Linked DNA regions of Homo sapiens. The protein of the gene in region 4 interacts with the protein of the main gene of each other region in a pairwise test. Each region holds a gene or a part of one and is shown on either strand. Other genes may lie near its edges. The genes, in order: NPAS2, CLOCK, RORC and BMAL2.

Evidence for each region.
Region 1: the proteins of BMAL2 (region 4) and NPAS2 interact in binary tests that used the Homo sapiens proteins (3 or more experiments, as listed by UniProt).
Region 2: the proteins of BMAL2 (region 4) and CLOCK interact in binary tests that used the Homo sapiens proteins (3 or more experiments, as listed by UniProt).
Region 3: the proteins of BMAL2 (region 4) and RORC interact in a two-hybrid assay, tested with the Homo sapiens proteins (one study listed by BioGRID and IntAct).

What each region holds. Positions count from the first base shown.
Region 1 is NC_000002.12:100,823,139-100,830,168, reverse strand, and holds part of NPAS2 (neuronal PAS domain-containing protein 2), read right to left. Parts: intron 1-7,030. UniProt on the Homo sapiens protein: Transcriptional activator which forms a core component of the circadian clock.
Region 2 is NC_000004.12:55,452,882-55,459,911, reverse strand, and holds part of CLOCK (circadian locomoter output cycles protein kaput), read left to right. Parts: intron 1-650; coding exon 651-764; intron 765-901; coding exon 902-1,020; intron 1,021-3,611; coding exon 3,612-3,694; intron 3,695-3,908; coding exon 3,909-4,015; intron 4,016-6,087; coding exon 6,088-6,235; intron 6,236-6,514; exon of another isoform or gene 6,515-6,782; coding exon 6,783-6,858; exon of another isoform or gene 6,859-7,030. UniProt on the Homo sapiens protein: Transcriptional activator which forms a core component of the circadian clock.
Region 3 is NC_000001.11:151,828,779-151,835,803, forward strand, and holds the start of RORC (nuclear receptor ROR-gamma), read right to left. Parts: upstream 3,025-7,025; 5' UTR 2,987-3,024; coding exon 2,947-2,986; intron 2,355-2,946; exon of another isoform or gene 2,352-2,354; coding exon of another isoform or gene 2,150-2,351; intron 681-2,149; coding exon 651-680; intron 1-650. UniProt on the Homo sapiens protein: Nuclear receptor that binds DNA as a monomer to ROR response elements (RORE) containing a single core motif half-site 5'-AGGTCA-3' preceded by a short A-T-rich sequence.
Region 4 is NC_000012.12:27,419,834-27,425,814, reverse strand, and holds the end of BMAL2 (basic helix-loop-helix ARNT-like protein 2), read right to left. Parts: intron 5,420-5,981; coding exon 5,283-5,419; 3' UTR 529-5,282; downstream 1-528. UniProt on the Homo sapiens protein: Transcriptional activator which forms a core component of the circadian clock.

The DNA.
Region 1 (7,030 bases), on a different chromosome or scaffold from region 4:
CGTAGTCTGATGACTAACAATTCTATTCGCGTTAGGATATTTGGGATGCCTCAATGCATGCAACAAAGACCAAAGAGCTATGCTGGCTGCCTCATGATGTCCCCAGGAAGTCTACTGATAGGTTGTTTTTGCTTTCAAGGTATCTTTTTCTTGTGTGGTCTGTTGACTCTGAGAAGGTTTTTTCTTTTGTCATCTTGCCTTTTCCTTTCCTATTGGAGGACAGCAGGTGGTGGGTGTTCCTGGGCTATGCACTATCACTTAGGAGTGAGGAAGTAGAAGGATGATCAGAGGTCCATGCCCAAGAGTGGTGCTTTTCAAATGTGCCCTTGCCTGAAGGGTGATTAACATTTCTTATGAGTTTTATCCATTTCATTTGCCTTCCTCTCTTCTCTAGCAGAATTGAAAATGTTTTAAGAGCATTCCCCTGGATAACTGGAACAAGATGAGGATGCCCACTCTCACCACTTCTATTCAACATAGTACTGGAAGTGCTAGTCAGAGTAATCAGGCAACAGAAAGAAAGTAAAGGCATCCAAATAGGAAACGAAGAAGTCAGACTCTCTCTCTTTGCTGCTGATATGATTCTATGGCTAGAAAACCCCGAAAAACTCCACCAAAAGGCCCCTAGAACTGACAAATGACTTCGATAAAGTTTCAGGATACAAAATCAATGTGCAAAAATTAGTAGCATTTCTACATTATTTCACACCAATAACGTCCAAACTGAGAGCCAAATCAAGAACACAGTTCCAAAGTGCTGGGATCAGGCGGGCGGATCACTTGAGGTCAGGAGTTCGAGACCAGCCTGGCCAACATGGCAAAACCTCATCTCTACTAAAAATACAAAAATTAGCCAGGCATGGTGGTGCGTGCCTGTAGTCCCAACTACTCAGGAGGCTGAGGTTGTAGTGAGCTGAGATTGCGCCACTGCAATCCAGCCTGGGCGACAGAATGAGACTCTGTCTCAAAAAAAAAAAAAAAACAACAAAACACACACAGTTCCATTTGCAGCAGCCATTAAAATATAAAATACATAGGAATACAGCTAACCAAAGAGGTGAAAGATCTCTACAATGAGAACTATAAAACACTTCTAAAAGAAAACATAGATGACAGAAACAAATGGAGAAACATTCCATGCTCATGGATTGGAAGAATCAATATTATTAAAATGCTCATACTGCCCAAAGCAATCTACAGATTCAGTGCTATTCCTATCAAACAACCAATGTCATTTTTCACAGAACTAGAAAAAACTCTTCTAAAATTCATAGGGAACCAAAAAAGAGCTTGAATAGCCAAAGGAATCCTAAGCAGAAAGAACGAAGCTGGAGACATCATATTACCCAACTTCTAACTATACTATAAGGCTACAGTAACCAAAACAGCATGGTACTGGTACAAAAACAGGCACATATACCAATGGAATAGAAGAGAGGACTCAGAAATAAAGCCACACACCTGCAGCCATCTGAGCATCAACAAAGTTGACAAAAATAAGCAATGGGGAAAGGACTCTCTCTTCAGTAAATGGGGCTAGGATATTTAGCTAGCCATATGCAGAAGAATGAAACTGGACCCCTACCTTTCACCATATACAAAAATTAACTGAAGATGAATTAAGGATTTAAATGTAAGACTTCAATCATAAGAATCCTAGAGAAAAGCCTAGGAAACATCAGTCTGGACACTGGCCTTGGGAAAGAAAGTCCTCAAAAGCCATTGCAACAAAAACAAAAATTAACAAGTGGGACCTAATTAAACTAAAGAGCTTCTGCACAGAAAAAGAACCTATCAACAGAGTAAACAGACAACCTACATAAATGGGAGAACATATTTACAAACTATTCATTCAACAAAGGTCTAATATCCAGAATCTATAAGGAACTTAAACAACTGAACAAGCAAAAAAAACAAAAACCATATTTAAAAATAGGCAAAATACATGAACAGACACTTCTCAAAAGAAGACATACAAACATGAAAAAAATGCTCCATATCACTAATCATCAGATAAATGCAAATCAAAACCTCAATAAGGTACCATCTCACACCAGCCAGAATGGCTATTACTAAAAAGTCAAAAAACACATGCTGGAGAGACTGTGGAGACAAGAGAACACTAATGCACTGTTGACTGGAATGTAAATTAGTTCAGCCACTGTGGAATGCAGTTTGGAGCTTTCTCAAAGAACTTAAAACAGAGCTACTAATTTGACCCAGCCATCCCACTACTGATAGTAGTATCTATCCAAAAGAAAACAAATCATTTTACCAAAAAGATATATGCATTCACATGTTCATCACAGCACTATTCACAATAGCAATCGTGATTCCATGTCCATGTCTACTGGACATGGAATCAACCTAGATGCCCATCAACAGTGAACTGGATAAAGAAAATGTGTTACATATATACTATGGAATACTATGCAGCCATAAAAAGAATGAAGCCATGTCCTTTACAGCAACGTGGATGCAGCTGGAGGCCATTATCCTAAGTGAATTAATGCAGAAATAGAAAACCAAATACTGCATGTTCTCACTTATAAGTGGTAGCTAAACATTGGGTACTTGTGGACATAAAGATGGCAACAACAGGTACTGAAGACTACTGGAGGGAGCAGGGAGCCAGGGGATAAGGACTGAAAACCTAACTATTGGGTACTACATCAGTACCTGGGTGATAGGATCATTCATACCCCACACCTCAGTATCATGCAATATACCCAGGTAACAAACCTGCACATGTATCCCCTGAATCTAAAATAAAAGTCGAAAAAATTAAAAGAATACAGCAAATTTACTTTTCAGCTGTCTCATGCAATGTACGAAGTGTTTACGTAACTACTGTACATTCAGAGAACTGAATTTAGAACCTGTCTGACTGTAAATCTGATGGATTCTAAAAGCAACAAAGCTTCTTAGAAATGCTTGGGGCAGCCTACCATCTGACTGGATTGAGAAAGGCCTGGAAGGTCATCTCCTCAGGGTTTTCTTGGAAACATATCACTGGAGGGGTGTGTCTCCCAACACCATTTCCAGAAAATCTTTCAGGTTTACTGCAAGGTCGATCATAGCCACTTAATTTTCATAGACAACCTCTATTTCAAATATTTCCCTTTGCGTCTTCATGTACCATCGATACACTCCCAAAACAAGTATAACTATTATGTAGCCAATAAAATTTAATTTAAATTGTTTATGTCATGGAAAAATGCTTATGTTCACGTCAAAACAATCAGAATAGAAAACTATAAATGGTACTACCTCAAACATGTGAAAATGCACAAAAAAGATTTAAAAGCTGGAAAATATCTTGTGTTAGTTAAGATATGGAGACAAGGCGGCCTTACACACTGTAGATGGGGAGGTTAACAGGCATAGCTTTTTTTAGCCCCCAATTTGGCAGCATCTATCAATATTTCAAACAGGTGTGCCTTTACCCAGGCCTAATAATCCCTGACCTAGAAAATCTTGAAATGTACATAAAGATATACAGATAAGGAAGTTAATACAAAAACTGTAACAGTCAACTCAATAGATTATTTATTAATAGGGATGGGTTAAATAACGTCCTATTTGTACTTCTGAATAATACTCTGTAGCCTTTAAAAATAAAGAAAAAGGTATGTCATTAAAAATCCATGCCATATTAAGTTGCTAAATAATATACATAAAATGAGTTCAGTTTTTGTTTTTATTTTTTAGTTTAATTTTATTTTTTTGAGACAAAGTCTTGCTCTGTTGCCAGGCTGGAGTGCAGTGGCAGGATCTTGGCTCACTTCAACCTCCGACTCGCTGGTTCAAGTGATTCTCCTGCCTCAGCCTCCTGAGTAGCCAGGATTACAGACATGTGCCACCATGCCCAGCTAATTTTTATATTTTTAGTAGAGACAGGGTTTCACCATGTTGGCCAGGATTGTCTCGAACTCCTGACCTCGTGATCCGCCCGCCTCGGCCTCCCAAAGTGCTGGGATTACAGGCGTGAGTCAGTGCACCCGGCCTTAGTTTTTAAAAGTGTACATATGTGTGTGTATATGTAAATGCGCCAAAAATGACTAGCAGAACATGCCCCATGGTTATCAGTCATTACCTCCTGAGAAAGGTGGAGAGTTATGGGATGCTTTTGGCTACAACAGAAAAACTAGCTCAGTTTGCTTCATCTGGTAATGGTTTCATGATCTCACACATGTTCAAAAACAGACTCTTCTTTGTGTAATTCAGAAAGTCAAGGGCACCACGGAGACCTCCCCGCCCCCTGCCCTTCTTCACCTTTGCATTCTTCCGCAGGTCAGCTGAGACCTGGCCCAGCCCCTCTGGTGGCTGATGGCTGCCCAGTTTGCAGGCATTATGGCCACATATCACAGTATCTAGTGGAAGGAAAGGACTGTTTCCTTCCTTGTCTCTTTTGAGAGCAGGGAAACTTTCCCAGAAGCCTCCCAGTGGCCCACCCTCACATTTTATTGGCTAGAACAGGGTCCGCATGCTCACCCTGAGCCAGTCACTGGCAAGGGCAGCAGCCCCACCCTCACCAGGGTTGAGTGGCCAATCTGATAAACCTCCAGAGGCAGGTGTGGGTTGGCAGTCTACTGTACAAAATCCAGTTTCTGCTAGGCAAATAAAAGATAGGGCGATGATTATGGGTAGGCCACAAGGATGAAGGGAATTTTTTTTCTTTCTACTAGAAATGGTTCTGTGCTATTTGAAAATTTTTACAAGATTATATCCATGTGCTTTTTAAGATAAACTAATATAAAAATATTTCAATGCATAGAAAAAACACTGAACGGAAAATATATCTTGAAATTGTGGGGTTTTTTCCTTCTTTTCTATCTTTTCCAAAAACTATGTACTTTTATAAACAAAAAACCAATAATTTTCAGATGACCTCGAGCTCTTAATATTTTATCACCAAGGGGCACAAATATCATTCATAAAATTGTGCATGTCATTTTTGGCTCAGAAGAGGCTAGAAGAATCACGCCACTAGGTTCTGTCACCTCGTCACCTGTCTGTCTTTAGATGGGCCTGTGTTTTCTGGAAGCCTGGATGATTTTCAGTGGTCTGGGAACATTATCTGCCACGGCCTTCAGCAAAGCAACAAAGTCCACAAATTGAGTCCTAGGGTCCAACCTCTCAGCTTCAGCCCCCACCACTGCTCCCATTTCCATCCTGGTACTCCCATGCCTGACGATGCCTTCCTTTCCCTCTCTCGTCTCCACCCTCACCCAGGCCTGCCTTGGCTCCAGGGGGTTCCTCTGCTTTTCCTTCCCCCTAAACATCAAACTGCCATTGCCATTCTCTTAGAACTTGGTTTTCAAGATTTACTTTCAGGGAGCGTGGAAGGCAAATGGTAGCAGAGAAATCGCCTTTGCAAATAATAAATGGAATCCCAAAATATATTTTAAAAAATCAGAGTGATGTTGGTTGAAGTGTTTTCAGGGCCACCCAGGTGACCCCTCCTAATATCAGGGTGAAGGACACCATTGCCTTGCAATATCCATCTCTCCTAGATGGCAGGAGGAAGCAATATCTTAGAGTGCAAAGCATAAAAGGCACCCCAGGTGAATTCCAACACGCTCGGCACTAGTTTCAAGTAACTCGTACTATGGTGGAAAGACAGATTGATGGCTTTGATCCTGGAAAGTGACCCACCACAGAATAGACCAATGCCCCTCAAAGAGGAGAGGTGTTTGTCCTCTCCACTACATTTTTAAAGAGCGCTTGATTGCCACTAGCAGTCTTGATCAACAGAACCTACAGCTTAAGTACCAAGAAAAGCTTCAGATGAAAATATCCTAGGAAGGGCTATCAACAAAGCAAACCAGAAGCCAGGGACTGCAGGAGAGGGTGGAGATAAGCATGCTCCCAATAATTTTCCATTTTGCCTCTGATTAGCTTCCACAGCTGCCTGCCCTCCAGCCCTGGCCCGGTTCTCCACGGCCGGCCTTGGGTTTGCTGGTAAACCAAATTGAATCTCTAATTGGTGAACTACATGGAACATATTTTAGTAACCTCTTCGTCCTCCTTGCTTTCCAGCCTCCTCTCTCCTATCAACAGTAATAAAAGCAATCACTTTTGTTAGGCCTAACACGCGTCCTTTACTGGTAATTCTACAAACTTGGCAAGGTAAGCATCATTTGCACTGTTTTTCTGACAAGGACTCTGAGTCTCAGGTTAAAAGTTGCCATAGCTGAGCTGGGAGGCTACCCCAGGTCTGTCTGACTTCAAAATCTGCATTTTATTTCTTGCCAAGTCACAAGGCTCTCCATTCAAATATGACTACAGGTCAAGGTCAGCAATGTGGAAGCCCTACCAGCAACTCTCCTTTCCTGGGCCCCTTTCTGGCCACCACCCCAGAGAATGGCATCCCAGAACCTCATTTTCAGTTTACAATCCCTCTCTCTCTCCCTGCCACCTCACCTTGTTAGCTCCTCAAGGGCAGGTACAACCCATCTTCTCATTTTTTTATCATCTGGGCTCTCTATGTGGTATATGCTCAGTAAACATGCTGAACTGGATTCAGTGCATCCCAAAACCTTGCCAGCGTGCAGCATCTGGTAGCTGTGAGAAATGCAGCTCGGGTCCTCTCCCAGGTGTCCTGAGTTAGAATCTGTGTTTGACAAGGGCCCCAGGTGATTCTCGGGCACTATGATATCCAGCATCCTCCATCTCCTTATACAGTTTTTTTCATACCAGTGTAGAGGATCAACACTCTCCTTTCTATTCTGAACCATCAAATGGAACCACCCATTGTTTTAAGACTTGCAAAAGTTCAAGTGGTCTCTGGGGGAACTTTACCTAAGAAATGACTTTGCTTAAAATGCCAAGGACTCCTTAATCTCAGTTAAAGAATTCAAGTGAGAAGCAGTTGTGCCTTAAAGACTGCATTAAAAACTCCCCCTTTAAACATACGCTCATATTTAATACATGTTTATTTAGTGCCCTGAGATACTATTAATCATCATCACCTTGAGATTTAAAATAGAATTACTCATAGTTAAGTACCCCATTAGCATTCAGAAAT
Region 2 (7,030 bases), on a different chromosome or scaffold from region 4:
GGCAGGAGGATTGCTTGAGCCTAGAAGCTTGCAACCAGCCTGGGCAACATAGTGAGACCCCATTTCTATAAAAAATTAAAAATTAGCCAGGCATGGTGGCTCACACCTGTAGTCTTGCGTACTTGGGAGGCTGAGGCAGGGGGCTCACTTGAGCCCAGGAGTTCAATGCCACAGTGAGCAGTGATCATGCCACTGCACTCCAGCCTGGGTGACAAATCAAGACCCTGTCTCAAAAAAAAGAAGAAAGTAAGGACCCAAAGGTGTAGATGCTAAAGGAATAAGGAACAGTGATGTGGCCCGGGTCCTAGAGAAAATAGGAAAGACTATAAATGGTAGAGATGGAAGGATTAGCTTTAGAATGTGAAGCAAAACTTTCCTTTGAAAGTGAGTAAAGAATGAAAAGGATGAGTAGCTAAAAATAGGGAAACATTAAGTTGTTTGCACCAGAAAATCTATTTTTTCTATTAAAGACAAAGTGAGATCCTCTCCTGAAGGTGCTCTACTTTTATGAACTAAATGTCATTGACGACTTCTGTTGGGGAAAATAATGGTTGTAAACTTACACAACTTTTATGATCTTACTTTATGTGGTATATCAATCATTGTTTTATATCAGAAATATGTGATTTTTAAAATCTCTTTTATTTCAGCAAAAAATCAGTTAGAATTCTGTTGTCACATGCTGCGAGGAACAATAGACCCAAAGGAGCCATCTACCTATGAATATGTAAAATTTATAGGAAATTTCAAATCTTTAAACAGTGGTGAGTTAAAATGCTTCTCTCACAATGTGTTTTAACTTGTTATTTTTCTGTGCTCTTAAAGACATAGATGTTTGAATATCAGTGACAATTAGGTTTTGCTGGCATAACTGATGATACATATTTCCCTATTGTTTTAGTATCCTCTTCAGCACACAATGGTTTTGAAGGAACTATACAACGCACACATAGGCCATCTTATGAAGATAGAGTTTGTTTTGTAGCTACTGTCAGGTTAGCTACACCTCAGTTCATCAAGGTATGTTTTTAATTTTATTTCCCAAAGGGGATTTCAGTTCATATGCTGAGAGCTGCCTGAAACTTCCTGCAGACATTGAGGTGGAATGGCTATGAGTCATTAAATATGCATGATAATATTTTTGAAACGATGAGTTATCAAGACACTCATTAAATTGTATAACTAATTTTTTAGTATATATCCTTTGCAGTTAACCAGTGATTATTATATATCAATATTGCCCTACTTTTGTGGAAGATTTTAGGATCCTTTTGTGTGTTGTTCATTATCTCTATTAAAAGGGAAAGTCCAAAAATCTAGGTTTTTGGAATCTTTATTTTTAGAAGGTAACTTTTAAATTTTTATTTGAAATGTACAAGTGGCTCTTTGCCACATATAACTTACCTTTTCAAATGTAAAATTAGGTATTTTATTTTTATTTCCTGGACCCAACAAACAGATGACAAGTAGGGAAGTGGGAAAGTGAAAGAGTTAACCACTAGAAACTGACTGGAAAGAGGCAGCCAGGCTAAGATTTAAAATTTCGGCGGGGCCAGGCGAGGTGACTCATGCCTGTAATCCCAGCACTTTGGGAGAGCAAGGCGAGAGGATTGCCTGAGCCCAGTAGTTTGAGACCAGCCTGGGCAACGTGACAAGACCCCATCTCTACAAAAAATACAAAAAATTAGCCAGGCATGGTGTTACACACCTGTGGTCTCAGTTACTCAGGAGGCTGAGGCAGGAGGATCATTTGAGCCCAGGAGGTCGAGGCTGCAGTGAACTGTGTTTGCATTTTATTTTGAGACAGAGTCTGACTCTGTCTCAAATAAATTTGGGGGGACATCATAGTATAGGACAAAGTACTGAATTAATAGAAGATCTTAAGCCAGTCTTGCTTGGTTTGTTTTGATCTTATGAAATAATAGTTGTTAACATTTGAGTGCTTACTACATGCTGTGTATTTTATATGCATTATCTCATTAATTCTTATGACAACCCTATAAGTTAGATGCCATTACGATCCCTCATTTTACATTATAAGGAAACAGGCTTAGGGAAGTTAAGTGACTTGCCCAAAGTCTCAGCTATTAGTGATGAAACTGGGACTTGATTCTATTAATTAATAATTGTTTTTTTCTCAAAGCCCAAGCTCTCAACTATTACAGAGTGCTGCAGGTCATTCAGGGACACAGAGGCAGGATGGAATACATTGTTTAGTATGACTAGAGTCTAGGGTTAGTGTGTGGAGGGGGAAGAGATAGTGGGAGGTAAGGCTAGAAAAGTAATCAGAAACCAGAAATAAAATTTGTTTCTTTCTTGTTTATTTCTCCATGCTGAAGAGAGTTTAGCACAAGGAACCACTGAAGGTTTTTTAGCAGGGAAGTCATATAATATTTGAGTATTGGTAAGGTAATTGTGGCCCTAGAAGAGAAGATGAGTTGAAGGACAGGGAGACTGGTGAACACTGTAGCAAATCAGTGATGGCAGGGGTCTAAACCAATGCACTCAAGATGGATGAGATAGAATTGATTTTTAAAATACTTAGATGAAATGGAAAAGATTTAGTAATGGCCACTTAGATGATGAAAGGTAAAAATGAAAGAGTATGTTTTTTTAACTATCAGATTTCTAGACACTGGCCACTACACATGTATAGAATAATACGGAAAATTGTGTGATTGGGTGTGAGGAGTAAAGCAGTTAGTTTATTTTAGGACATATTGAATTTGAGATGTATGAGGACATTCAGATATTTGGAAATATGGAACTGTAATTCAGGAGAGAGGTCTGAATTTTGAATAAGCGTTTATAGGCATGTGTGAATGGAAAATGTGTAGAGTGAGAAGTACCCACCCAAAAGCTTGCATCTAAAGGTTATTTATTACCACATTCTTTAGTACTGGAAAATTAAAATATATTAACTTGTTTAGAAGGGCCTGCATTTTGGCTTATGCCTAGAATCCCAGCACTTTGGGAGGCTGTGGTGGGCAGGTTGCTTGAGCCCAGGAGTTGAAGACCAGCCTAGACAACATAGACCCCCCACCTCTACAAATAAAAATACAAAAATTAGCCGGGCGTGGTGGTGCATCCCTATAGTCCCAGCTACTTGGGAAGCTGAGGCAGGAGGATCGCTTGAGCCTAGGATGTTGAGGCTGCAGTGAACTGAGATCACACCACTGTACTTCAGGCTGAGTGACAGAGTGAGACCCTGTGTCAAACAAAGAAATAGGTAAATATATACATACATAGAAACAACTAACTTGTTTAGGAAAAGTTTATCTAGTAATGACTATTTATTTATGTATTTATTTAACCTCCACCTCCTGGGTTCAAGTGATCCTGCTGCCTCAGCCTGCCGAATAGCTGGGATTACAGGTGCCCGCCACCGTGCCCTGCTATTTTTTGTATTTTTAGTAGAAATCGGGTTTCACCATGTTGGCCAGGCTGGTCTCAAACTCCTGACCTAAGTGATTTGCCCACCTCAGCCTCCCAAAGTGCTGGGATTACAGGTGTGAGCCACTGCACCTGGCCATGACTTATTTTTATATGTAGCAATATTTAATATTCTTAAGGACACAAAGTATTTATAAATTTTAATTATTTATTTGTAGGAAATGTGCACTGTTGAAGAACCCAATGAAGAGTTTACATCTAGACATAGTTTAGAATGGAAGTTTCTGTTTCTAGATCACAGGTAATTCCATTTTTAAATTCCATGAAAAGGTAATAGTCATGTTATATAATTCTTGAAATTAATGGATCAAGGGCAAACTTTTTTTTAAATTAGGACTTTGAAACCTGTTCCCATTTTTTGAAAAATAAAGCCCCCCCCCCAAAGTTTATTTCTAGTTGAAATATTTCTTATTATGGAAAAACTTATAATAATGATTGTTTTCTGTGTAATTTAGGGCACCACCCATAATAGGGTATTTGCCATTTGAAGTTCTGGGAACATCAGGCTATGATTACTATCATGTGGATGACCTAGAAAATTTGGCAAAATGTCATGAGCACTGTAAGTAGATTTTAACATTTCTGGTGATAATAACTGTTTTATAAGCAGAAGTCCTGTCCTGAAATGATAGGTAGTAAGACACAGATTTATAATCATTTTCATATTTTTGAAATATGCTAAAAGATTTTGCTTTATGTATATAACCAATGTAGTAGGAATCATAGATCAAGTTTAAACTTGTTCCTATTTTTATAATAAGTAGAATTTTATAATATTGCATCTAATACACCTTGTTCTGAAGCACGTGAGCTCTATATCTGGAGTAAGAGAAGTAGATTCCTTTGAAAATTGTAATACTTCAAACTTTTGGAGTATTGTTTCCTAAATTTTGATTTTGAGGCATGTGAATCTTTTCAGGAGCTAGGTACATGTCTGGAAAATCTGTCTTAGAAAGCTCATAGTAAGTGCTTGGTGTTATCTGCTTATTATTGTTGTTAGAGCAGGAGCATTATCATCCTTTGTGCCAGGCACTGTTCTAAACACTTTACATCTATTATCTTCATTATTCTCCATCACAGTTCTAAAAGGTAGATGCTATTATTATCTTCATGAGTAAGCTGAGAACACAGTAAGGCTAAGTAATTCACCCATAATTTCATAGCTCATTGGTGGCAGAGACAGGATTGGAGCCTAGGCCTACTCTTTTTATCACATGTATTTATTTTAGAAGTTTGTTTTAATGATGAGGTTTGCCTTAATGATATGTTTTATTTGCTTCTCTGATCCTCCTCCCAGATGCTTACCATCTTGAGTGTTCACTAAAGCTTAACTAGATATTTTAGACCTTTTCATGACGTTTTATGCTGCTGTTATAAACCTCACTGTATGAAAATGAAGCAGGTTGTATAATAGCATTAACTCTATGGAAAATTTTCAGAGTAAAGTCATTTCAGCACAAAAGATGTGGGCATTAAGCACCATGATGTTGTCTAAAGAGCTGATACCTCTATTAACTAGCTGGGTAACTTTGGACAGCAAGTTTGTTTGTAGACCTTGATTTCCTCCTTAGAGAGTGAGAGGCGGTGGCGGCGGGGTTGGGGGGTGGGGGGACAGATTGAGAGATTCTTGACTAGCATTTTCTAAGGTTTGTTCCACCGAATGTTGGTCCATAAAAAAAGACTTTATAGTCAAGGAAGATGGGGAAACACTTCATAATCCCTCAGAGAATCTGCACATGCATTAGCATACTCTAGGTTTTGAGAAAACTGAAGACACCTATTTAACAAAAAGTTTCCCAAATTAATTTAACTACAAACCCTTTTTTTTTTTTTTTTTTTTTTTTTGGGATGGAGTCCTGCTTTGTCACCCAGGCTGGAGTGCAGTGGCGTGTCTCAGCTCACTGCAGCCTCCACCTCCCGGGTTCAAGTGATTCTCTTGCCTCAGCCTCGTGAGTAGCTGGGATTACAGGCACGTACCACCATGCCTGGCTAATTTTTGTATTTTCAGTAGAGATGGGGTTTCACTATGTGAGCCAGGGTGGTCTCAAACTCCTGACCTCAAGTGATCCTCCCACCTCTGCTTCCTAAAGTACTGAGATTACAGGCGTGAGCCACCACACCTGGCCCAAAACCCATTTTTTTGTTTAATATCTGTTAAAACGCTTCAGAACTTAAAATCCACAGCACATGTTTTGGCAGTTACTGCACTCAGTTACTTCAGACTCAGTTACTTTGATTTTGGTTAGTTAAGGTTTAAAATTAAATGCTTCAAAGATTCTGTGCCTGCCAGAGTAGTTAGGAGAAAAAACTCAGGGGTGATTATTTATTGTTATTACCCTCTGTATATCTAGGCAGGAGGAAGTCAGCAGTGTGAATTCTTAAGTATTAATTGTGTATGGAAAGATTGTAAGATCAGCAGTGACTAGCTGTGAATTGGGCACTGTAGATCTGATAATTGCTTGGGACCTTAAACTAGCTCTAAAGAATAACATTTTCATATTGACATATATGTTATCAAAAGGCCAGAAAAATAATAGTATGTGTAAACTTAAATGTAAATGATAGCTTTTGGTTAAAAAACAATCTTTATATAATATGAATTAAAGAAAAAATATTTCTCTATTTTCCTTTTAGTAATGCAATATGGGAAAGGCAAATCATGTTATTATAGGTTCCTGACTAAGGGGCAACAGTGGATTTGGCTTCAGACTCATTATTATATCACTTACCATCAGTGGAATTCAAGGCCAGAGTTTATTGTTTGTACTCACACTGTAGTAAGGTAATAATTCTTTTAGAGAATTTCTGAATTACTGTAACATCCTATGATGATTTTGGCATTGTAACTTTTATGCGTAAGTTGTTAAAGAGCTACAAAGTGCTCTTTTCTCAATTGCTGATAGATCCTTTCAATATATTATTAAATTTACTTATAGGCATTATATATAAATATAGGAATGATATAGATATATAAGTCTTGATATAAATTTTGTGCTTTACAGCAGAAGTTGTTACTGTCATTTATGTAGTAATGTCAGTCATGTAAAAGGAAAACTGTAGGTAGATAAGCATACACTTCCTTTATTTATTTTTCTTAATTTAAGTATTGTGTGGTTATGGATCGTTTACAGCAGTGTATGAAACTTTAAGATACCTAGAAAAATGCAAGTTAAATTAAGACATTATAGGTATATTTTAGGTTTGTGTAGCACATAGCAAATAGTCTAGATGAACAGATGAGACACGTAACAACACTGAATAGTTACAGCTGTGCAGTATTTTAAACGAATGACCAGACACTAAAATTTGATTATTTTTTCCATTTGTAGTTATGCAGAAGTTAGGGCTGAAAGACGACGAGAACTTGGCATTGAAGAGTCTCTTCCTGAGACAGCTGCTGACAAAGTATGTTTCTTATAATTAAAAAAAATTATTTTTAATTTCTCCCCAATAAAAGATGAAACTCAATAATTAATAGGAAAACTATTTTTCAAAAATACTTTATTTCCTCACTTATAACGGGGATGTGATTATACTTTACTACTTATTTTTAATTTAATATTTTAGAGTCTCACCT
Region 3 (7,025 bases), on a different chromosome or scaffold from region 4:
GACCAGCCTGACCAACATGGTGAAACCCCGTCTCTACTAAAAATACAAAAATTAGCCAGGCGTGGTGGTGGGTGCCTGTAGTCCCAGCTACTCGAGAGGCTGAGGCAGGAGAATCGCTTGAACCTGGGAGGTGGAGGTTGCAGTGAGCCGAGATTGTGCCATCGTACTCCCGCCCAGGCGACAGTGTGAGACTCTGTCTCAAAAAAAAAAAAAAAAAGCCTGGTGCAGGCTCCCTGTCTCCCTTGGCAGCAGCGCTGAGTTCCTGAGTTCCTGAGGCCACCCCGCCTCCGCACACCCCCCTACCTCTATCTCCTTCCTTCCCCGGCCTGGCAGTCGGCCCCACCCCCTCCCATCTCCCTGCCTCTGTCCAGCATTTCTCCTCGCCTTTTTTCACAAGGCGGTTCCCTTTTCCTTTGTTCTCTCCTGGTTTCTTTACAGTGTTTCCTTTCATGCTTCAGGCTTCTTCCTCATCTCCTCCCACTGCCCTGATCTGTGGTTTCCTCGCACCTCCCCTTGCTTTCCTGTTGCCTGCCATCTCTTCCTGACTCCTCCACCTCTGTCCAACCTCAGTCCCCCCACAGATCACTTGCTGAATTATTCTCCATCTCATTATGCCCCAGCCATTTTCTTGCCCCGGACCCCCTACTCACAGGTGTGGGTCTTCTTTGCAGCCAGCAGCTCTGTAAAGACAAGAGAGGGGGTTGACGTCAAAGGTTGAAGATCATGAGGGGCTGAGACACTTTCCCCACTCCTAGGATCCCACTGCCGCACTCCTTCCCTCAGAGCCTGGCGTCTGAAGGGCAGGCAGGCCACCCCCTGCAGTGCCCCTCTCTCCTCCTCTGCCCTTGGGCCACACTGGCCCTCTTCCAGGTACCCAGAAGTGTCAGGCTCCTCACTGCCTCTGGGACTCCCCCAAGCTGCTCCTTTGCCTAGAATGCCTGTCCCTCCTGTACCCCTTAATCTAGCCAACTTCTCTTTCTCCCTCAGGTCTCTGATTATGTTTCTTCCTTGGAGAAGCCACACACACCCCCTTCCCCTGCCCTTGTGCTGACACATTTAGCTCCTTGCATTTTATTTCCTGGCACTCACCATGTCACCAACTGTCACCTAACTGCTGTAATTGTGTCATTGTCTATGAAATGGGTCTTTCCTGCCAAATTGTAAAGCCCTGTGAAGGCAGGGACTGTGTTGGTCTTATTTACTTTGTAATTTCATTGGAGGTGCACAAGAAATATCCTACAGCCAGAGTTAAATCTCTGTGGGACTGAAATCTCTTGGTTGCTTATCTATGCCTGAAAACACCAGGGCTTCAGAGATGTGGGGGTTGGGAGTAGGGGGAGAGGATGTTTGGAGGAAGAGGAGGGGAGAGTTGCAAATACAGACCCCTCTCTGGCTTCCACGGGCCAGGCTTCCCTGGCCTACCAGCCTGAAGAGGAAGGCCTCCCTTCTCTGCTGCTGCTGCGTGGCCGGGTCTGGGTGGAGATTGGGCAGTAGGGAGCATGAGTGGGTCGATGGGGGTCACATGGATACTCGGACCTCCAGGGGGAGCAGCCGTTGAGGGGAGGGCCTTAGCTGGAGCATGGTTGGTGGGTGGGGGGGTGTCACCCATTCATGCAGTTAACATCTATGAAACACCTAGCCAGGGAGCCCCTGGAAAGAGGATTCCCCTGCCAGACCTTGGCCCATTTCCTACATCCACATAGCAGCTCATCACAGAACACATGGCCAGTCTTTTGTCTCAGAAAGCCCTTCAACCATGCCCTATACCCCCTATAGCTTCCCTAACCTCTGACTCTATTCTGTTATTTTTTTCCTTCTGCTGTTCAGTCTTGACACCTGACATACACACACACACACACACACACACACACACACACACACACAGTGCCCTTCTGCCCGGGAGATGCTCCCCACTGGCAGGCCGTGGTCACTAGGCTGTGTGGAGGCGAGTGGCCTGATGGCCTGGGCTCTGCTGGGGTGAGGGAGGAGAAAAGACTGCCCCGAGGTGGCAAGGCCCCACCCAGCCCCGCCCACCTCCCCTTGCTCCTGCCTGGCCCCACCCAGCTTCCTCCCTGACGTGGCACCGGCTCCTGGCCTCTAGCCTTGCACCTCAGAGCAGTCCTGTGGTGGGGGTGCTCCCCTTGCTCACCCAGGCAGCCAGTTCTTCCTCCACCAGGTGGCCCTGGAGCTTGGTGGCTCTGGCCCTCAAACTTTCCTCCTCCATGCTCACAGCTGACCAAGCCTGTGGCCCTGCGATCCTGCTCTGAGGGGGTTCCTGACTTGGACCATGGGTGGGGCCAAGGACGGCCTGACATTCTGTCCTTCCCTGCTGATGGCCCAGTGCCCCACATTCTCTGCAGAGATGAAATCCCACATCCCTGGGTGAGTGGCGAGGAAAGGACCAGGCTACGTGGTCATGGGCAGCTGACAGGGTGTGGTTCCCCCTGCCACACTCCCCAAGTCTGTCACTCCTTAAAGGACAGGTTTCTCCACTGGTGAATGAACAGAAGGTGGAGCAGCCAGCCTCCCGGCCACTGCTGTCTGGGGTCCTGGCCAGATCAAGGAAGCAGTGTCCCTGTGCCTCCTGGGGGGTAAGCCCACACCTGGGAGGGCCTGTCCACATTCTGACCCCTCGCTGGGTCTAGATCTGGCTCCCCTGACTTGGCTCTTCCCTCCCCATCTACCCTCCAACCTGTTTCTTCCTTCTCCCGCTTCTCCCTTTCTTTCCTGTTTCTCTCCTTTTGCGATTTCTTCTCCTCTGTCATCTCCCCAGCCCCTCCTCCTGTTTCTCCTCCAGTTTCACTCCCTGCCAACCCAGGGCTTTCTCCTCTGCACTCTTGTCCCTCCCTCCCCTCCTCACTTCTTGCCCAGTCTCTTGCCATTTCTGCCCTCCTCTGAACCTCCAGCAGTCTCTTCCACCTGCAGGCAGGGCCATGGGCCTCTTACCCCGTGAGGCTCGGTGCTGTCTCTGTGGGGCCCTGTCCATGGGGCAGCTCCCTTGGTGCCGTCCTGGCTGCCCTGGCTGCCCAGGAGGGCAGGGAGCAGGGCCCAGGGGAGGGAGGAGGGCGGAGGGTGGAAGGCGGGAGCACCTGGCCCTCCAGCAGGCAGGGAAAAGGAGTGGCTGGCAGAGTGTCCTGGCACCAGGAGGGGACATGAGGAGAGACCAGTGGACCAGTGCATGGAGCCTTGAGGAGAAACAGGACAGGAGAAAGGAAGGGAACTAGCATTTATTAATCACTTACTGTGTGCTGGGCCCTTTGCAGGACACTTTATGTAAATCCATGCTTTTACTTTGTGTAAATATTCACAGCACCCACCACAGGGAAACATTATTATTCCAGATTGATCAGTGAGTGGAGGGATTCTCAGAGATATTAATGATTTTGCCCAAGGACTCACACAAGAACAATAAATGGGTGAGCTATGATTTGGACCCAAGTCTTTGTGACTTTAGAATCCTGTGATTTCTACCTAAGACAGGTGACAGGCATAGGGGAGATGGAGAGGGCAGGTTTGGGGGACTGTGTCTCTTCTCTAGGATGCAGTCAGACTCCTCCCAGTGACTGTTCAGTTCCCTGAGGCCTCTGCCTGCTCGGCCCCTGCCCCTAACCCTTGCTGCTCTTGCCAGGACTCCCTGACCCCCTGATGCTTCTACGTGCTCCTCATCTGTTGGGGCAAGGGGCAGGCCTGGAGGAGTGCCTGGAGGCAGAGAAGCCATGGTGGGGAAGAGGAGAGGAGAGATGCTGCACTGGACTCATTGGGAGAAGGAGAGGCTCCCAGACCTAGTGGCCCACACTGAGGCCTGCAGTGAAGGCTCTGAAGGGGGCCAAGAGGACGAGGCTTCTGGGGATCCTGGTGCTGCTTTTCTCCTGCATGGCCTGGGCCCAGAGTTTGATTAGCTGGGCCTGACTCTCCTGGTTACCCAACAAGCAACTGGCCAGGGGCCAGGCTGCAGCAAGAGGCTCCCTGGCACCTCCTCCTGCTCTCGTTCCCAGCTGGTAAACAGCAGAGCAGGAGTCAGCCATGCCACAGCCTCGTGACTCGCCCACTCCCCCCCACCTGGTGCACGTGGCACCTGGCATGGAGAGGGCAAGCAGCTGTCCCTTCCCTCTTCTGCCGTCTCGTCTCGCCATCCTCCACTCCTGCCCAACCCTGGAGCTTCACACTCTGCTACCATCAGCACCTCTGTTCTTAGGTAGCTCCCAGAGTCTCCCCATGGCTGCAGATTGAGAGATAAAGGTAGAAGTGGAGAAGGACTTTTCAACTCCTAGGGTCATTGACAGTGGATGAGTAGTGAGAAAGAGGAGGGGAAGTTTTGGGGACCTTCTGCACTGAGTCTAAGGGTATGTGCCTATGCCTCTGAGGCTCTGATTATCCCCCGTGTTCTTTTGGTAAATGTGGGCCCACGCATCCATGTATGCATCTCTGCACAGAACAGGATGTTGGTCTGTTTGGGGGCTCTGCACCTTGGGCAGGTTTGGAGTGAGAGGTAAAGTGCTTTGCAGCTCCCTTCCCCCCCGCCCCCCCAGCACCCTCCAGCTGACAGGAGGAGCCAGCAACATGCCGGGCGTGGGAGTGCAGGGGAGATGCCGTTCTGCTCCCCTCCTCCCCAGAACTCCTCAGTTATCCCCCATCTCTCTGTCTCTCTTTGCTGGCTCCTGCCTGTCTGTGGCTCTTCTCCAGCTGTCCCCTCTCTATCTTTTCTCCTTTTTAGGCCTCTCTTCCTCTTGACTCTGGGTCTCCCAGGGGCCCTTCGTGACTACCTCTTCTACAACCCACCAATTGCAGGCACAGAGTGGAGGTCACGTAGAATGCTTGCGGATGGACACAGAGCATCCCCAGACACTGCAGGCACAGCTGACTCCCCAGTTGTGCCACTTTGTGCTACTATGTAGGGTGGGGAGGAAGTGACTGGAGATTTAGAAGACAGTATCCTGACCTCTAGGCCTAGGAGTGTCACATGCTTCCTAGGCATTCTCTACCTCTCCCCTGCCCTAAGCATGGATAGTTTGAGTTTTTTTTCTCCCCAGGGCAAGAAGATCCCTTGGTTATCCTTATGGGAAGTTCCCCCTCTTGTCTAAACTTTCTCCCTCTTGCTGCAATCACAGCCCCTTATCTGGAAGAATCGTCCTTTCAAAGCAGGGCGGTGGTTATTTCCTCTTCAAATACAATCTTATATAAGGAAGGGGCTGATAGGGATCAGAGAATCATTTCATCCCCACGTGCCCAGTCCCCTTATTGGGGAAATCTCCATGCTGGGGGCAAACACTCTGGAAGGGATGGGAGGTGGTGGTGGTGGCTTGGAACTGGGGAGCAGTCCCCAGCATCTCTTTCCTTCCTTCCCCAACCCTAAACCACAGAAACCACTTAAAGCTCAGCACAAATCTGCCCTTTCAGGGAGGGCCTGGGGGTCAAGGTGGAAAATATGTGGAGCCTGGGTAGTCTGCGGTGGCACACACTTCCCCAGCCCCATCCTTGGAGGGCCCTCTCCTTGGGATGCCTGATCCAGTGATTAGGGACCACTTTTCTTTGGGTTCTAGGGGGTTCCATGCCTGGGGACGCCTCAACCCACTGGAGTGACTCAGGGATGGGTTGTGCCTCAACCGTTGAAAAAGGACAGCCCAGGCTCTGTAACCTTCGGTAGCCTCCAGATCTCACAGTCCCCACCCCTCCCCCTTCTTGTCACAAAGGCCACTGTGGGTGGAGGAACAGTGGGAGTTTGACCCTAGCTCCTGGCCTTGAACTTTCCACAGTGACCCTGCTTGTACCTCTCCTCTACCAATTAACATTTATAGTCACACAGGCTTGGAGGTGGCAAGAAGGGTTTAAATGCTGGGGCAGAATCACTTATAAGAATGTGGTCTGCCATTTACTAGCTGTAGGCCCTGAGGGAAATCTCAGCCCTCAGCTACCACATCAGTAAAAATGGGGCAATAATACCTGTCCTAACTAGTGGATTTTTTTGTTTTGTTTTGTTTTTGAGACAAGGTCTCACTTTGTCACCCAGGCTGGAGTGCAGTGGCGTGATCTCAGCTTACTGCAGGCTTGACCTCCTGGGTTCAAGAGGTCCTCCTGCTTCAGCCCCCCAAGTAGTTGGGACTACAAGTGCATGCCACCACATGCAACTAATTTTTGCATTTTTTGTAGAGATGGGGTTTCACCATGTTGCCCAGGCTGGTCTCAAACTCCTGAGCTCAGGTAATCTGCCCGCCTCAGCCTCCCACATTTATCCACTTATCAAAGTGTTAGGATTACAGTCATGAGCCACCACACCTGGCCTCTGACTAGTGTTTATAGAAGTGCTTTGGGGCCAGAGCAATCTGCACACTGGAGGGTTTCTTAGGACCTCCTCACTCCCATGTTTCTGTACTTTAGCTACCCAGGATGTTCCTCCAGCAATGCTAGGGCCCCCATCACAGAGCCTCAGGGCTGTGAATGCTGAGTGAACTGCTCCTGGGAGGAGTGGCCTTGGATTTCCTCACAGCTTCCCCTAAGCAGTTGGGGTGGCAGTGGGGGTGTCTGGGTGGAGTCAGGTCAGAACCTTTCCCTCCAGCCAGGGCTGTTCCCCAGGCAAGCTTACTTAACCTATCTATCTGATCCATTTCTTTCTTTGTAAAGTGGGAATAATAATACCTACTCTCCTGAGTGGTTGTGACGCGGTGGCTTACGCCTGTAATCCCAGCACTTTGGGAGGCCGAGGTGGGTGGATCATGAGACCGAGACCGAGATCATGAGACCAAATCAGGAGATCGAGACCATCCTGGCTAACACGGTGAAACCCCGTCTCTACTAAAAATACAAAAAACCAGCGGGTGTGGTGGCACGCGCCTGTAGTGGCAGCTACTCGGGAGGCTGAGGCAGGAGAATCACTTGAACCTGGGAGGTGGAGATTGCAGTGAGACGAGATCGCACCACCGCACTCCAGCCTGGGCAACAGAGTGAGACTCCGTCCCCCCACCCCAAAAAAGAGGAATACTAATATCTACTCTACTGAGTGGTTGTGATGATCAACTGAGATAACACAG
Region 4 (5,981 bases):
TATAATTCATGATGGTTGACTCTCTAGAATTAGTGTAGATACTGCAACCACACAACAGAAAGTCCAGGTAAACCAAGTTGATCCAGAGGCCCAGTCAATGCATATGTGCATGTGAATTACTAGGAAATAGAGAGGCTCTCTTTCCACTGAAATTGTCAGGTATAAGAACAATATACGCTTGGAACTTCTGAGTGTCATTATGCGGAGAGGGTCCACCGGAAGATAAAACCAGCTCATAGGAAAGCAAAGCTGAGGGATGGAATGAGGAAGAGGCAGAAAGGGAGGAGGAGAGAGTCAGAGGGACAGATAAGGCTGATGACGTTGGAGTCTGACGTGAGCACAAGGAAACCTTTACTGGTTAAACCACTGAGATTTTGGAGTTGTTACAGCAGTTAGTATACCCTGGGGAACATACCCAGAAATATATATAGTAACAGAGTTCAATGTACCCCTCTGCCCAGTGGTTTGAGGGCACTGGATGGTTTCCTTAATCTATGTTTCCACATTAGAAAGTAGTTAAGGGAGCACTTTTTGGAGGAAGTTTATTAAATTAAAAAAAAAAACTACAAATGAGTAATTATAAAATATAATTTCACTCTTTTCATTATTTACCACAAAAATTTAAAAATACCAATATACAGACGAGCACAAGTGAACTGGAAAAGAGCTAAAAATTGTATAAAAGACAAATCTAAACTCAAGAATATATGAGAAGTGACATACACCATACACTCTCAAGTGAGTTCAGAAAGCATGTTCCGTGCTGGGCAGGTTTTCTTTCCAGGTCAGTTTTTATTGGCACTACACCTGGAAAGCTCTCTAAGCCAAAGTTCTTATGTGTCAGGATCTTCCTAGACCTCCCTTGGAAAGCATTTCTCATAAAACAACTCACACCAGACAGGCTGACTTATTGTAGGCACAAAAATCATAAATGCCTCTCATAGGCCCCATGGAGCTTGGAAAAAAAAGATCTGCTAATGAAAGCATTACAAAAACAGAAAAGTGGCACCTAGTGGCCACTTAGCAGCTTTTCTTTATGGCTTCTAGCTAATCATAGATGTCGGCCTGTCTGCCCGTAACATTGTGCTGGGCAAGTATGAGTCTCCAATTCCAGGGCTCAGTGATGACCCACCTGAGGGGGAGATACCTCTTGGCAGCATGATCTGAAACTGGACACTACTAAACATGGTCTGGGAACTAAATATTGGCTATTTCTTGTACCTGTGCCCCAGATTTTACGGAGATCCCTCAAAGACTATGACAACAAAGACATCCTTTTCTGTCGTGACACTGTAAATAAACACTTTCTTTTAAATTCCATTTATTTACTAAAAGTCTCTATTCTGTACTTTCCTGTTTGTCTTTGTTTCACAATAGATTTCTAAATTTAGTGATGACCATATAACTCATTTCACTTGATTCCAAGTATCATCCTGTAATAACACATCTGATATTTTAAAGTTTATTATTTTCAAAAGTTTAAATTTGGTAACATGGATAGAGACTTGTTATTTGATCTTACAGATTCAAGGATCAATAAATAATTGTTCTTCAAACATGGTATTTAAGGAAAAATATCCTTATGGTATAAACTTTGGTCTACTTCAATAATAACCACTTAATATAATGTTCTAGAGCAGCGCTGTCCAATAGAAATATAATCTGAGCCACATGTATAATTTTATTTTCTTCTAGCCACATTAAAAAAGTAAAAAGATACAAGTAGAACTAATTTTAATGTTTTAATTCAGTATATCCAAAATATCATTTGAACATGTAATTAATATAAAATTATTAATGTGATATTTTACATTCTTTTGGTAATACTAGTCTTCAAAATCTGGTATGTATCTTACATTGATAGCACATCTCACTTTGTACTAGCCACATTGCAAGTGCTCAGTAGCCACATGTGGCTAGTGGCTACTGCACTGGACAGCACAGTTCTAGGTTCCACCCTAACACCCAAGTCCTGTGGATTAGAATCCCAGAATCAGAGCTGGAAGTAAACATAGAGATCAAACCTCCTTTTAAAAATGAGGACGCTGAGGCACAGAGTTTAAATGGCTTGCATGAGGTCATACAGCTAAATTCAGCCTCAACAGGGTCTTCTGATTCCAGGCACTCTTCCCACTCCACTACATTACTGTAGTGGTAATTCTTAGGGTTAAAAAAAGTGTAGAGTAGGCCGGGCGCAGTGGCTCATGCCTGTAATCCCAGCACTTTGGGAGGCCGAAGTGGGCGGATCACGAGGTCAGGAGATCGAGACCATCCTGGCTAACATGGTGAAACCCCGTCTCTACTGAAAATACAAAGCAAAATTAGCCAGGTGTGGTGGCGGGCGCCTGTGGTCCCAGCTGCTCTGGAGGCTGAGGCAGAATGGCGTGAACCCAGGAGGCAGAGATGGCAGTGAGCCAAGATCGCGCCACTGCACTCCAGCCTGGGCGATAGAGCGAGACTCCATCTCAAAAAAAAAAAAAAAAAAAAAAAGAAAAGAAAAGAAAAGTCTAGAGTACTGTTTTTATGATACTTTCGTGCAATTTGTAGATATATTCTTTCTCACGAAAATTCAAAAAATTGACTCGCAGTAGAAAAAAGGAACATAGTGTATACCATAAAAATATGTCACTTCTAACAGCAAAAATCAAATTTAGTTGAAGAAAACTAAAACATTTTGAAGGAAACACAAACCTTAGGAGAGCTACGGTATCATACAATGCATGGATTAGATTTTGAGTCCAGGACAAAAGGATCTACAGAAAAATATTAGAGCGAACTAATAAAGGATCAAACCATGCACAGAGTATTCAACTGGCTATCTGCCCACTGGTCTATGGAATTGAACAGCCCCTCCTCTTGCAAAGAGAAAAAACTGCCACTGTGAGAGGCAGCACTGGTCTCCCTCTAGAAACTCTGCCTCTCAAATCCTGGCATCACGAGGGCAAGTCTGCCCCCATCTGCTTTTGAGGCCATCCAGCTATGATGGCCTACCCTGCCACCCCTGGCTTAGGCAGACTCTTTGGAAGCCAAGTCTAACCTGCAATGGTTCAGTCCCCTAAAAAGTGATATTGGTAGGCAGGCCCCTCTGCTCAATTTAGAGAACACAGGGGATCTTTCATACTTCTTTAGACTTAACTATAACACTTAGGCTGCTGCACACCAATTCTCCCCATCTTGTAGGATTTCTTTGGCTCATTCTAAACCTGATGTCTCTCAGGTCCTCAAGTGTCGGACCAGGAATGGTGCCAACCCTCCAACATTGCTGGGACACTATCAGTTCAAGAGGACAGTGTGCCAATACATCCTTGCCCACGAAGCCCCTGCACATTTCACACTTGAAGGAAACATTTGCTTTTGGTTATTGTCTGTTGGTATGTTTGTCATTAACATGTCTGACAGAAGTTCTAATCTATCACCTACAGCTAAAGAAATAGCATGCAGGGTCAAAATAATGCTTTGTTTTGGCGAGGGGCTCTGAGGGAAATTTTCTGGAAAGATGTAGCACCATATAGAACAGGAAACTGGATTTGAAGCCCACATTGAAGTCTGAGGGCTGCCCCATGAGTTCCCAGCCTATCTGACTTTCATTTGCGAGGCACGAGAGAGAAAATATGGGAGCATACTTGGCAAGCTATGAAGAGCTACTGAAGCAGAAAGTGTTATAAAGTATGATCCCCGAGAAGGTAGACATGCAGTATTTTAAATAATCTTAATTCTTATACTCAATTTGAGCCACCTCTGGATTAATTACTGTTAAAAATGCTCTCCAAATTTTAAATTATAACTAGAAAATTGGTTTTTAAATTATTTCTCATTGCCTCATAATTTTAAACATGTACTTGTCATTTTGTTTTATTACCTTTGGTTACAGGCAATAACTGTAATTGCCTAATTACTTAGAAAGCTACAACTAGTTCCTGGGTCAGTTAGTTAATCATTTAATCTGTGAGACCAATGTTTTCCCAAATGTGTATAAAGAAACTGGTTTATATACATTAAACATTTAAAACTCTATGAATTTAATGTGTGACTGAATTTAATGTGTGACTTTACACAAGACATTTAATCTGCCCGGGCCTACTTTTTTCCTTTAGGACAAATCTATCCCTAAGTATGTTTCCAATGTCAAAAACCTAATCTATCTATAATAGAGATCTTCAGTGATTATATTAAATCTTTTTTTTTACTTTTTTTGAGATGAAGTCTCACTCTGTTGCCCAGACTGGAGTGCAGTGGTGCGATCTCGGCTCACTGCAACCTCTGCCTCCCAGGTTCAAGCAATCCTCTCGCCTCAGCCTCCCAAGCAGTTGGGATTACAGGTGTGTGCCATTAGGTCATGAGGCCTTTGCGCTCATGAATGGACTGTCATTATCGTGGGAGTTGGTTAGTTACCTCAAGAGTGAGTGCCTGGGTAATTTTTTTTGTATTTTTAGTAGAAACGGGGTTTCACCATATTGGCCAGGCTGGTCTTGAACTCCTGACCTCAAGTGATCTGCCCGTCTCAGCCTCCCAAAGTACTGGGATTACAGGCGTGAGCCACCACGTCTGGCCTATTAAGAGTAAATCTTATATGCAGAGGTTAATCCCCAAGATCTAGGGCCCAAGATCCTTCCTTTTCTGTAAGGAAAGCTGAAACTCTTTTGACTTTCTGAGTTTTAAGCAAGAAATCATCTCACTTAAAATTCATCTTAAAGTGCTCAACTGAGCATAAATATCCCAGCTCTGTGCTTGCCTAAGTCTCCAAAGATCAAATACAGTATTCAATGTGATTATGACTATAAATTGCACTGTCCCTTTAAATGTTCAAGTACTCACTGTTTTCTTAAAGTGTGTAAGCCCTATCCTCAATTAAGGAAATTCGCAAGGAATGGAAAATGTTCCAAATTATACAAACCTACTATTATAAATGAATCTTAGACACAAAGGAAAACATCAATATATTACATTACCTCAACTAAAAAAAACTGCATCAAAAATAAAACAAAGCCAAAACAATATGTAAGTAGTATTCTTGGTTAGAAATATTTTAGCAAAAATATGGCAACTAGTGGATTATAAGCCATTTCACTGAATAAAGGAGTCTATAATAAACTTGGTTCTCTTGGGAGGAAAACGTATTTCCCCACATCCCTGTGACAGGAAGATGCAAATCTATAAAAAGTGGTAGAACATTAATAAAAGATACAAACAATATCAATACAGTACTTAAGAATAGTTGAGACAGTTTTTCGTAAATGAAATGCTTTAAAATGTTTCTCATTTTTGGAGTTAAAAATCAAAGGCTAGAGGGTCCACTGGATGTCACTGAAGTCCCCAGGGTCTCCCAGGCCCCCCTCTGCTTCTAAGTAATTCATAAATGCAGCCATGGCTGTGTCATCATTGTCACATAGGGCATCGAAATCCAACTGTGCACCATCACCTATGAATTAAAATACAGGCCTGTGTAAGTAAAGGTGATCAGTAAAGTCATACATTTCACACATTTTGAGGTTAAAAAATGATTGTGATAAAAAATGGCAAAGCAAGGCTAGAAAACCATAAAATGTATTTTTGAAGGCAAAGTATATATCTTAAGCTGCAGATGGCTGATGTATTTTTAAATGGGTTACCTAGTTTTATAACAATCTTCTGTCAGATAAATTGCACCTAATTCATCTGCTACAGAGAAGTAAGCTAGTCTATGAGTTTTCTAATAGGAAATTACACTGCTAAAGGGTACAGACTCTCAGAGAGCTGGAAGGAAGCTAGGAAATTTAGTGTATGTTTGTGTGTGTGTGTGTGTGTGTGTGTGTGTGCACGCGCAAACCCTGGAAGGAGAAAATTTAATCTGCTTATGAAAAAACCCTATCTGTTTAATACTGAAATGAGAAGCCTGAGACAGAAGCATCTTCTAAAGATTTGGAATTTTCTTATAAAAGGGAGATAAATCAGATTTTTATTGAAAAAGGAAGTAAGTAGGAACCATGGAGATGATAATTAAT